Linked DNA regions of Homo sapiens. The protein of the gene in region 3 interacts with the protein of the main gene of each other region in a pairwise test. Each region holds a gene or a part of one and is shown on either strand. Other genes may lie near its edges.

Region 1 (3,652 bases), on a different chromosome or scaffold from region 3:
TCAAGCGATTCTCCTCCCTCAGCCTCCTGAGTAGCTGGGATTACAGGCGCACGCCACCACGCCTGGTTAATTTTTGTATTTTTGGTAGAGACAGGGTTTCACCAGGTTGGTCAGGCTGGTCTCGAACTCCTGACTTCGTGATCCACCTACCTCAGCTTCCCAAAGTGCTGGGATTACAGATGTGAGCCACCGCGCCCGGCTCTGGTATGTGAGTTTTAAAAGTTGATAGGCATTGCTCAATTTCCCTTCAAAAAGATGATGTCAACTGGGTGCAGTGGCTCATGCCTGTAATCCCAACACTTTGGTAGGCCGAGGCGGGCAGATCACCTGAGGTCAGGAATTCAAGACCAGCCTGGCCAACATGGCAAAACCCCATCTCTACTATAAATACAAAAAATTAGCTGGGCATGATGGCGGGCGCCTGTAATCCCAGCTACTCTGGAGGCTGAGGCAGAAGAATCACTTGAATCTGGGAGGTGGAGGTTGCAGTGAGCCAAGATCGCACCATTGTACTCCAGACTGGGTGACAAGAGTGAAACTCCATCTGAAAAAAAAAAAAATAGATGATGTCAAATGACACTCTCAGCTCATCACTATCACCTCCCCATCACAACTGTACTTCCCTACCCTGCCGAGACTCCAAGGGCCAGCGTTTCTGTCCCTCCCTTTTTTCCCTTGTCCCTCTGTTCCTCCATTGCATTCATTTAGCAAAAGTTCAGTCCTTGTTAAGCCCAACTCTGCATCTACTCCAGCTTGTGCACAGCAGCGGAACACAGCAGGAAAAAAAACATACAAAATGTTCACTTTAAATGTTTGACCCCAAATCTGTAGTGACACTGAGAACTGCTTAGCAACCAGCCACGTTTCTCAAGTTTTTTCACTATCTTAGTCTCCAAAATGACTATTCCACTCCTTCTCTTATCTCCCCAGGTCTCCAACACTCTTCCCTTCCACCCCTACTTGCTCTCAATTGATGATCTCACTAAAAAACAAAAGCAATCAGGAGAGAATGGCCCTCTTTTTCCCAGGATGAATGTAACGGCCTATTGGCATCTAAACCACAATGGACATATCATCGCTGTGCCTCCACTGCCCATCTGATCCTGTCCTCTCCTGCCTAACTGGACCATGCTCTCACAGTGATCCCCTCTGACAACTCACAAACTGCTGTCTCAGCCTGAACTCCAGCCTCTTACACCCACCTCCTAACCCAATAACTCCATTTGGATGACTAATAAGTACCTCAAACCTGACATGTGAAAACAGGATTCTCACCTCCATACCCCTGCCCCCCACCTTGCACCCCATCTTCCACAGCTCAGTAAATGGCTCCAGTGGCACTACCCTTTACACTATAGCTTGAACCAAAACCTTGGTGCCATCCTTGACCCTCCCCTATCACACATCCAATCATTCAGCAAGTCTTGATTATTCTACTTTCAAAATATGTGGAACCCTACATTTCTCTCCATCCCCACTGATACCTCCATAAGACCCCCATCATCCCCGGTCTAGACATCTGCAACAGTGTTCTACAGAGTCTGCCTGCTTCCACTCTGACCTTCCTACCGCCTATTCTGAGCAGAACAGCCAGGGTGATTTTTTAGAACACAGCCACAGGATGACACTTCTCTGCCTGAAATCCTCCATTAGCTTTCCTTCACAGAATAAAATCCAAACTCCTCACCACGCCAAGAAGGCCCCCATGCTCTGACCCTTCCCCTCGTCTCCTCGCCTGCTCCACTCCACACTGGCCTTCTGCTTCTGGCTCAATCATGCCAAGGTCATTCTGCTTTGGAAACTCTGTGCTTGCTGTTCTCCAGCTGGAAAGCTCTTCCCTTGGATCACCATGTGCTGAGCTCCTTCACATTATTCAGGCCTCAGAGATCCCCTCCCCAGAGAGGACTTTCCAGACCACTCTACCTCCAAGAGTGCCTCTGTCCCCCTCCACTCCAATTCCCTACTTTATTCTTCAGGGTACTCATCACTAGCTGAAATTATATTTCCTATTCATCTGTTTATTGTTTATTTTCCCACTGGGATGGGAGCTGTATGAGCTTAGAGTAGCACCTAGCACACAGAAAATGCTTAATAAATCTTTGTTGAATTAATAAATATTTCATGATAAAATTTAAAAAATTTTTTTAAATGTAACCACATGTATAACTGGCATGCTCTGGCATACTTGGCAAACAAACATACCCATGGAGAAAGACCAGAAGAGAACAGAGAAAAATAAAAGTAGTTGCGATTGGAAATTTTTTTTACTTACACCATCCTATTTTAATGTTATGCTGTTGTTACAATAAAAAACAATGGCTTTTCTGTCCTAAATGAAAGATGAATGAGGACCCATCAGCGCCAGAGGGTCACTACTCTACTCACGAGTTGTGAGCAAGAGAAAACCAACTCCTGACACCTGGGCGCTGGCCTGGTACTATCAACCAGTCCTTGGTGCTCTCCTTTCGAACATCAACATCAACACCAGACAAGGCCACTCTGTGACCATGATGGATGAAGACAAAAACAAGACCACTCTGCAATACCTGAACACAGACAAAACATGAACATTGTCCAAGCCACAAAATACCAAACATCCTCCTCTCCCAGCTAATGAGTGACTATTGCTTCTTCTTCAGTTTCAGCTTTGGCACTGCTTTAATCTACTCTCCCTATAGATACGATTTATTAAAATACCAAATGACAGAGTTGCCCATTTCCTGACAGCATCTAATCCAGAGTAAAGTCCCCAAATCACTACCACAGCCCAAATCCTATATGGGCTCACCCCACGGTGCCCTTTGGTGTGCACTCTCCCTCACAGCAATAAGCAATAAGCTCAACTTGTTCGACTGTAGGTGTGTTCCTAGTTGTGTTTCGCTGGAGGGCACTGACAACTGTCAGGACACCAGTTACCATTACAGGCCATGGTACACGCAGAAGTCATAGGAGCCTAGTGGGAAAACTGACCCCCGGATATAATCTCAGTGTTGGTTCTCTGAATACATTCCCTGACATCAGCTGATTTTCTTGTCATCTGCCTCTTTTTCCTAAAAGTTGGGTGAATGGGAAAAAAAAAGTCTACTTAATTAAATGCCCCAGTGAATAATGTTACAATCAATCCAGTATGCTTCCCTACCATTGCTGAAAGTCACCCTGAGCGCAAGGTCAGAATGGTGCTGGAGGACTGAATCATAGGCAGGGCCTGAGGCAACACCATTCGAGTACTTTAAGCCACATGTTCAAGCCCAATAAATTAGGCCAGGTTTAAAGAAGTCAAGCTGTACATATGTAAGAATTTTAATAAGCTTGGAAAATGCTACCTAGAGCTTATGCACAGGCTTACTGTACCAATGGGATTCCCTGCCACCAGCCACAGCGTGCTAAGCCCCTAACAAGAGCTGTTGAGCACGTGGGGCAGCGGGGACAGGGAGTCTGCTTGGTCCAGGTTTCCTTAGGAGTTGGAGACTCACAGCAGAGGCTGGCAGCCAGATGGATAGAGAACAGAATCGGGCATGCAGCTCAGTGGAGCCAATGACATTTACTAGGAAAACATGCCGAAGGTTTCTTTGGTGCAAATCTGGTCCTCACACACCCTTCTAGAAACTAGCAAACACTGTAATCAATGTCTGCATTTATCAAATGCCTGTTT
Region 2 (3,354 bases), on a different chromosome or scaffold from region 3:
TCAGAGAGGCAGGTCAGAAGAGAAGAAGGTGAGCACGGGAGGGAGAGCAGGAGGTGGGGTAGAGAGAGATGTGAGTCAAGTGGCTGCTGAGAGAGCCTACACTCCCAATCAGATCATTCCCTCCCCACCACTGCTCCTCCACTCCTCCTCCTCAACGTTCCTCAGTGTCTTCCATCCGGATCTTTCCCTTCCTTTCCCAGTGCCTGGAGCATTACCAGCCCTGAGCCCTGCTTGCTCCTGCCCTCTGCCTCAGTCCTGGCCAACTCCCTGCTTCTCTCTTCTCCGACACACGGCCTCCCCTGCCCTATCCCCCCTTACTCACCTGCAGCTCGGTGATGGACATGATCTCCTGCCAAGTCAGTTCCATCTCTCCTAGCTCTGAAGTGGACAGCTGTATCACCCTGTTCCTGCTCTGCTGGGGAGGACACGGGGACATCCTACTGGGCCAGAGTCTGGTCCAGGTTCCCGGAAAGCCCAGATGGCTCTAGAAACCTGTGTCAAAGGAAAAGAGGTGTTAGAGCTACACCTGCTAGGGTCAGCAAGTTTGCACTACCTCCTTGGAGGGGCTCCCTCCAGCTTCCCCTGAGGGAAGGAGAGACCGCCTCCTCCCCATCCTCACTCATGCTGGATTCATCAATCCCTTAAGATGGAAAGTCTTTTCCTGTGTTGTGATCTCCACCTCGCCAACTATGGCCACAGTCAGTTCCTTTGGTAGCACAGGAGGTCTTTACCTTTTTTCCAGGCAAAATGCCCACTCTTTTCCCTAATACTTTTTACTCCCCCAAACTGTTTTCCTGGCTAAAGGCAGAGTCAGATCTTCTGTTTTTCTGTTTTGCTGTGTTTTGTTTTCCATTTTCTAGGGCAACATCAGGGGTCACCCTGCTTTCCTCCTCTGTCCTCAGTTTTACGTTCTCAGCCTTTTCTTTCCAAGATGATGACAGTATATGCTTGAGGATCCCCAAGAACAAGTTGTGGAAAGAGGCAAGCAGACAGCCCCTCCTCCTCTCCAAGATATGGCCCAGGCCTGGTGGTTGATAGCAGCTCTGCCCTCTCCTCCTATCCTGGCCCTGGGCTCCCCTGCCTGGGCCAGATAAGAGGTTTATCAGTTGCAGGCAGCAGAGGCACAGAAGGAATGGGCTCTGGAGACACTGGACCTCTGTCCTGTGTCCTCACAGGGTCATTTGGGCCATACCTTAACCCATACAATCAGAAGTCTTTCCTCTTCTGAGGTAATATAACCTTAGTAAAGACTTAGTAAGCACTTGTTAAGAACTGTGCTGGTATTGCAAGCTTAGTTTATAAGATTGGTTTTCATCGGGCGCGGTGGCTCAGGCCTGTAATCCCAGCACTTTGGGAGGCCAAGGCAGGTGGATCACCTGAGGTCAGGAGTTCGAGACCAGCCTGGCCAACATGGAAACCCCGTCTCTACTAAAAATACAAAAATTAGCTGGGCGTGGTGGGGTGGCACATGTCTGTAGTCCCAGCTACTCGGGAAGCTGAGGCAGGAGAATCACTTGAACCCAGGAGGTGGAGGCTGCAGAGAGCCGAGATCGCGCCACTGCACTCCAGCCTGGCTGACAGAGTTAGACTATGTCTCAAAAAAAAAAAAAAAAAAAAGACTGGTTTTCACAAAGATTCTAAAGGTACATCAGAAACTGAGACTGAAGCTGATAAATAATAGCAGGATGAGGTCCAGAACCTGACTCTACCTGACTATAATGTCTTCTAGGCACCTTCCCCTCCTGCCCCTGTATCTTCATACTCCAAACCTCTACTGGAAGTCTACATTCATCAGTTCTTTCTGTGGAGTGTCAGTCTCTCTTTCTCCTTCTGGGCAATGTCTCTTTAGAGCCTTGAATATACACTGCCCTCCAGTCCCTTTTCTTTTGACCTGGGTTCTAGTTGCAGCTCTGCCACAAAGCAGCAGTGTGATGTTGGGCAAGCCATCTCACTTCTCTGGGCCTCTGTTTCCTCATTTGTAAAACCAGGGAGTTGGACAAATTGACCTTGGAGGTCCCTTTCTGCTTGGATAGCTTAGAATTCTCAGCAAACCCTCACCCGTGTCTTTATCTTCTTCTGTCAGTCCCTCTCCTCATGCTACCTCCCTATTCCCTGACACCCACCTTCCTTGCATCTGTTTTCCCTGCCGTCAGCAAGAGATTCCAAGTAGATTTGGCAAGGTCTTCCTGATCTCTACGGTCAGACATTGTGTCTATGTGCACGCACACAGACATACCGTGCCATATCAGTATAGGGAAGCAGGCTAGGATGAAGGAAACATGGGAGAGGGGAAGCACTTTGGGAGGCCAAGGTGGAAGGATTGCTTGAGCCCAGGAGTTTGAGATCAGCCTGAGAAACACGGTGAAAACCCATCTCCACTAAAAATGCAGAAATTAGCTAGGCATAATGGCACACATCTGTGGTCCCAGCTACTCAGGAGGCTGAGGTGGGAGGATCACTTGAACCTGAAAGGTCACGGCTGCAGTGAGCCATGATTGTGCCACCGCACTCGAGAGCCTGGGTGACAGAGCAAGACCCTGTCTCAAAAAAAAAAAAAAAAAAAAAAAACGGCCAGGTGCAGTGGCTCACACCTGTAATCCTAGGACTTTGGGAGGCTGAGGCAGGTGGATCACCTGAGGTCAGGAGTTCGAAACCAGCCTGGCCAACATGGTGAAACCCCCATCTCTACTAAAAATACAAGTAATAGCCAGGCTTGGTGGTGGGCGCCTGTAATCCCAGCTACTCAGGAGGCTGAGGCAGGGAGAATTGCTTGAACCCGGGAGGCGGAGGTTGCAGTGAGCTAAGATCGCACCACTGCACTCCAGCCTGGGCGACAGAGTGAGACTCTGTTTCGGAAAAAAAAAAAAAAAAAAAAAAAAAGAAAAGAAAGAAAAAGAAGGACAGAGGATAGGATTGTATGACCTCAAATTGCATGACCTTAGACCACTCACCACAAGGATGGCCCATCACAGCAATTTAATATGGAATCTTCTCTTCGACTTACCACAAAATTAGTAGGAACTACAAATGATCCTTTTGAAAGAGTATCTCCCCTAGCCCTTGCCTCCATCCCCTTGTTTTACTGCCATCCCCAGAGATGGGAGTTGGTGTAGGCAACTCTGCCAGTGGGCAGAGTGGGTGGGGTGTTTATGTCTGTCCAGGATGCCATTTCAACACCGGAACCCCACCCTCCTCCACCCAGGTTCTGGCGGAAATTGCCCAAAGGCAAAGTGAATGGAGAAGGGGTTTAGGAGGCAGAGACAATGACTCTTGCTTCACAGTTCTTTACTCACCCCAATCCCCCCATTTGTCTCTCCTTTTATCTTCTTGGATCTGACTCTAAGGTGCAGTACA
Region 3 (3,652 bases):
ATGTTCGTGAAAGGTCACCACGTTCTGCTTCTCATCATGGGCATGTGTCATATCCCCGAGGCTGAGGCAAGAAGCGAGAAGGAAAGTAAGTGGCAGTGAGTTCCCACCACATGACAACTCAATCTCAACTCCTCCTGACCTGCAGACCCTGCCCACTCCGATTCTGCCCTACCTCAGGACCTGTACACGCCTTCCATGGTTCCTTGAAGTGAACCATCTGCTCATACCACAGTGACTTCCTCGCCTGGGTTATCAATTCCTAGGCTAGAGGAAGGTGTGGCCCGCATATCAGTGCTGACCTGGGGTTTGGGAACCCACAGCATCCTGGGTAGGGAGGATCCCTGGATATAGAGGGCAGGGAGTAGAAAGAGCATGGTTAGGCAGGCGCAGAGGCTCACGCCTGTAGTCACAACACTTTGGGAGGCGGAGGCAGATGGATCACGAGGTCAGGAGATTGAGACCATTCTGGCTGACATGGCGAAACCCTGTCTCTACTAAAAATACAAGAAAAAAAATTACCCGGTCGTGGTGGCGGGTGCTTGTAGCCCCAGCTACTGGGGAGGCTGAGGCAGGAGAATGGCGTGAACACGGGAGGCGGAGCTTGCAGTGAGCCGAGATCATGCCACTGCACTCCAGCCTGGGGGAACAAAAGGAGACTCCCCCACCCACAAAAAAAAACATGGGAAATTTCATCATTCAGCCTCAATGCTGTACCCTAGAAAATTATGAGAAGGGAATGATTTGGGGAACAACTGATAAGATGGGATACCAGTACCATAACAGAATAGCACATCTGCAAGGATGTGGGAGATGAGCCAAAGGTTCACTTACGGAGTTACTCGTCATCTTCCTGAGGGTCGCTGATCTCTTCATAAATCACCAGTTGCTTTCTCTCACGCACTCTGTGGGTCCAGGCATGTTTCCCCCTTTTGGGTCCTATGATGGAGAAGAGTTGGAAGATGAGGGTTGGGTAGATTGGAGAGGGTTGGGTTGATTGGAGAGTGTTAGGCTCTGTTTTCTCCAAAAAAGGAGATGCCTCCCCACCACCAAGTGCCCATGGGTCTTCTTTATCCAGTTTTTCACATTCTCTGGCTTAGAGAGGCTGAGACCTTAGACCCACACCAATACAGGCCAAATGCAAATTAAAGTTTTAGCTTCTGGCTCCTTCCGTTGTCAGGTTTAGATTCCCAACCTCTTCACTTACGGGAACATTCACCCTTACCTCCTTTCATTCAGCACGTATTTATTAAGGCCACACAGGCGTACCTTGTTTTATTGCACCTCATTTTCATACTGCTTCACAGATGTTGCAATTTTTTTTTTGGAAATTCTCACCAATTTTACACTTTTCCATTATTATTATATCTGTTATGGTGATTTGTGATCAGTGAGCTTTGATATTATTACTGCAATTGTTTTTATTGTTTTTTAGTCTTTTAAAATAATTTCTGTTTTTTATTTTTGTGGGTACACAGTAGGTGTATATACTTATGGGATACATGAGACGTTTTGATACAGGCATGCAAATGCGTAAAAATCACATCATGGAAAATAAGGGATCTATCCCCTCAAACATTTATCCTTGGTTACAATCAATCCATTTACACTCTTTTAGTTTTCATACTGCACAATTAAGTTATTATTGACTATAATCACCCTGTTGTATGTAATTATTCTGGGGGTAACAGGAACTGCACTCATAGAAGTTGACAAACTTAATCGACAAATATTGTGTGTGTTCTGACTGCTCCACCGATGAGCTCTTCCCTGCCTCTCTTCCTTTTCTTGGGCATCTGTATTTCCTGAGACATATCAACACCGAAATTAGGAAGATTAACAACCCTACAATGGCCGCTAAGTGTTGAAATGAAAGGAAGAGTCGCATGTCTCTCACTTTAAATCAGAAGCTAGAAATGGCTAAGCTTAGTGAGGAAGCATGCTGAAAGCCAAGACAGGCTGAAAGCTAAGCCTCTTGCACCAAACAGCCAAGCTGTGAATGCAAAGGAAAAGTTCTTGAAGGAAGTAATAGTATATAATGCAAAGGAAAAGTTCTTGAAGAAAATAATAATACTAATACTCCAGTGAACACAAGAATAAGAAAGCAAAACTGCCTTACTGCTTAAATGAGAAAGTGGTCAGGATAGAAGACGAAACCAGCCACAACATTCCCTTAAGCCAAAGTCTAATTCAGGGCAAGACCCAAACTCTCTTCAAGTCCATGAATTCTGAGAGAGGTGAAGAAGCTGCAGGAGAAACGTGTGAAGCTAGCAGAGGTTGGTTCATGAGGTTTAAGGAAAGAAGCCGTCTCCATAACATAAAAGTGCAAGGTGAAGCAGCAAACCCTGATGGAGAAGCTGCAGCAAGTTATCCGGAAGATCTAGCTAAGATCACTGATGAAGGTGGCTACACTAAACAACAGATTTTCAATGTAGATAAAATAGCCTTCTATTGGAAGGAGATGCCATCTAGGACTTTCATAGCTAGAGAGCATTGACTTCAACTTTGAAAGAAGTTCTACTGTGGGTAAAATGCTATCCAAAAGCATCACATACTACAGAGAAAGCATTCATGAACGGAAGAGCTAATCGATGTGGCAAATTTCATTGTTGTCTTCTTTTATGAAACTGCCACAGCCACTCCACCCTTCAGCAACCACCACCTTGATCAGCCAGCAGCCATCAACACCCAGGCAGGATCCTCCACCAGCAAAAAGAGTGTGACTCACTGAAGTCGCAGAAGATTATTAGCATTTTATACAATGAATTATTTTAAAATTAAGATATATACATTTTGAGACACAATGCTAGTGCAAACTTAGTAGACTTCAGTATATTGTAAACATAATGTTTTTATGCACTGCCAAACCAAGAAAAAAATGTGTGTGACTCACTTTATCGCAGTGGTCTGGAACTGAACATGCAATATCTCTGAAGTACACCTATATCGGGTAACAGGCATTGAGCTGAGTAAGATATGATCCCAGGTAATCACAGATGGAATTGCTTCAGCACCTTTCATGTCATCAGGCCTTCTAGACTTAATTTAATGCCTCCAAACAATTTATGAACTGAGATTCTTTATTTCCAACTTATAAACTAGGAAACTGGAGCTAAGAAAATTTGGAAGACTTGCCCCAAGTCACGTGGTTTTTTTATATGAATGACAACTCCAGTCTGTGTCTCTGGAAGTCATGTGTAACATCTCATCTGGAGCTGGGCGAGCTCCTCAGCCCAGCCTGGACCCAGGCTTGTCTGGGGTCCATGCCACACACCCAGTCCACACACCTGAACTTAGCGAGAAAAGCCAGAGTGGTTGTTCCCAAATTCTTTTCTCTTACCAGATGTCTTGTTAACCTTCTCAGAGGTATTTAGTTTTCCTGAGGGGCGCAGCTGTTTCCCATTGTTCTGTGGGCCAGATGCTTCTGGCACTCCCTTCGAATCATTTCCTTCCTCTGCTGGCTTCTCGGGCGTGATCTTTATAATGTGAAGGTCACAGATAAACAGTATCAGTGACATTTCTTTAGTGCTTTAGAGCTTACAAAGAATCTTCACATGCATTACCTTAATCAATGTTCTCAACAATGCTAGGAGAGTTACACTTGCCTAAATTAGGAGAAACCTGGGAGGGGAGGTTAGATGGGAAAGGAATGGCC

Evidence for each region.
Region 1: the proteins of SSX5 (region 3) and PCBD2 interact in a two-hybrid assay, tested with the Homo sapiens proteins (one large-scale study listed by BioGRID and IntAct).
Region 2: the proteins of SSX5 (region 3) and NFE2 interact in a two-hybrid assay, tested with the Homo sapiens proteins (one large-scale study listed by BioGRID and IntAct).

The regions. Positions count from the first base shown.
Region 1 is NC_000005.10:134,911,584-134,915,235, reverse strand, and holds part of PCBD2 (pterin-4-alpha-carbinolamine dehydratase 2), read right to left. Parts: intron 1-3,652.
Region 2 is NC_000012.12:54,294,813-54,298,166, forward strand, and holds part of NFE2 (transcription factor NF-E2 45 kDa subunit), read right to left. Parts: intron 3,137-3,354; exon of another isoform or gene 2,952-3,136; intron 947-2,951; exon of another isoform or gene 732-946; intron 493-731; 5' UTR 437-492; coding exon 323-436; intron 42-322; exon of another isoform or gene 1-41. UniProt on the Homo sapiens protein: Component of the NF-E2 complex essential for regulating erythroid and megakaryocytic maturation and differentiation. Binds to the hypersensitive site 2 (HS2) of the beta-globin control region (LCR).
Region 3 is NC_000023.11:48,186,796-48,190,447, forward strand, and holds part of SSX5 (protein SSX5), read right to left. Parts: intron 3,474-3,652; coding exon 3,338-3,473; intron 937-3,337; coding exon 836-936; 3' UTR 832-835; intron 342-831; exon of another isoform or gene 285-341; intron 62-284; 3' UTR 1-61. UniProt on the Homo sapiens protein: Could act as a modulator of transcription.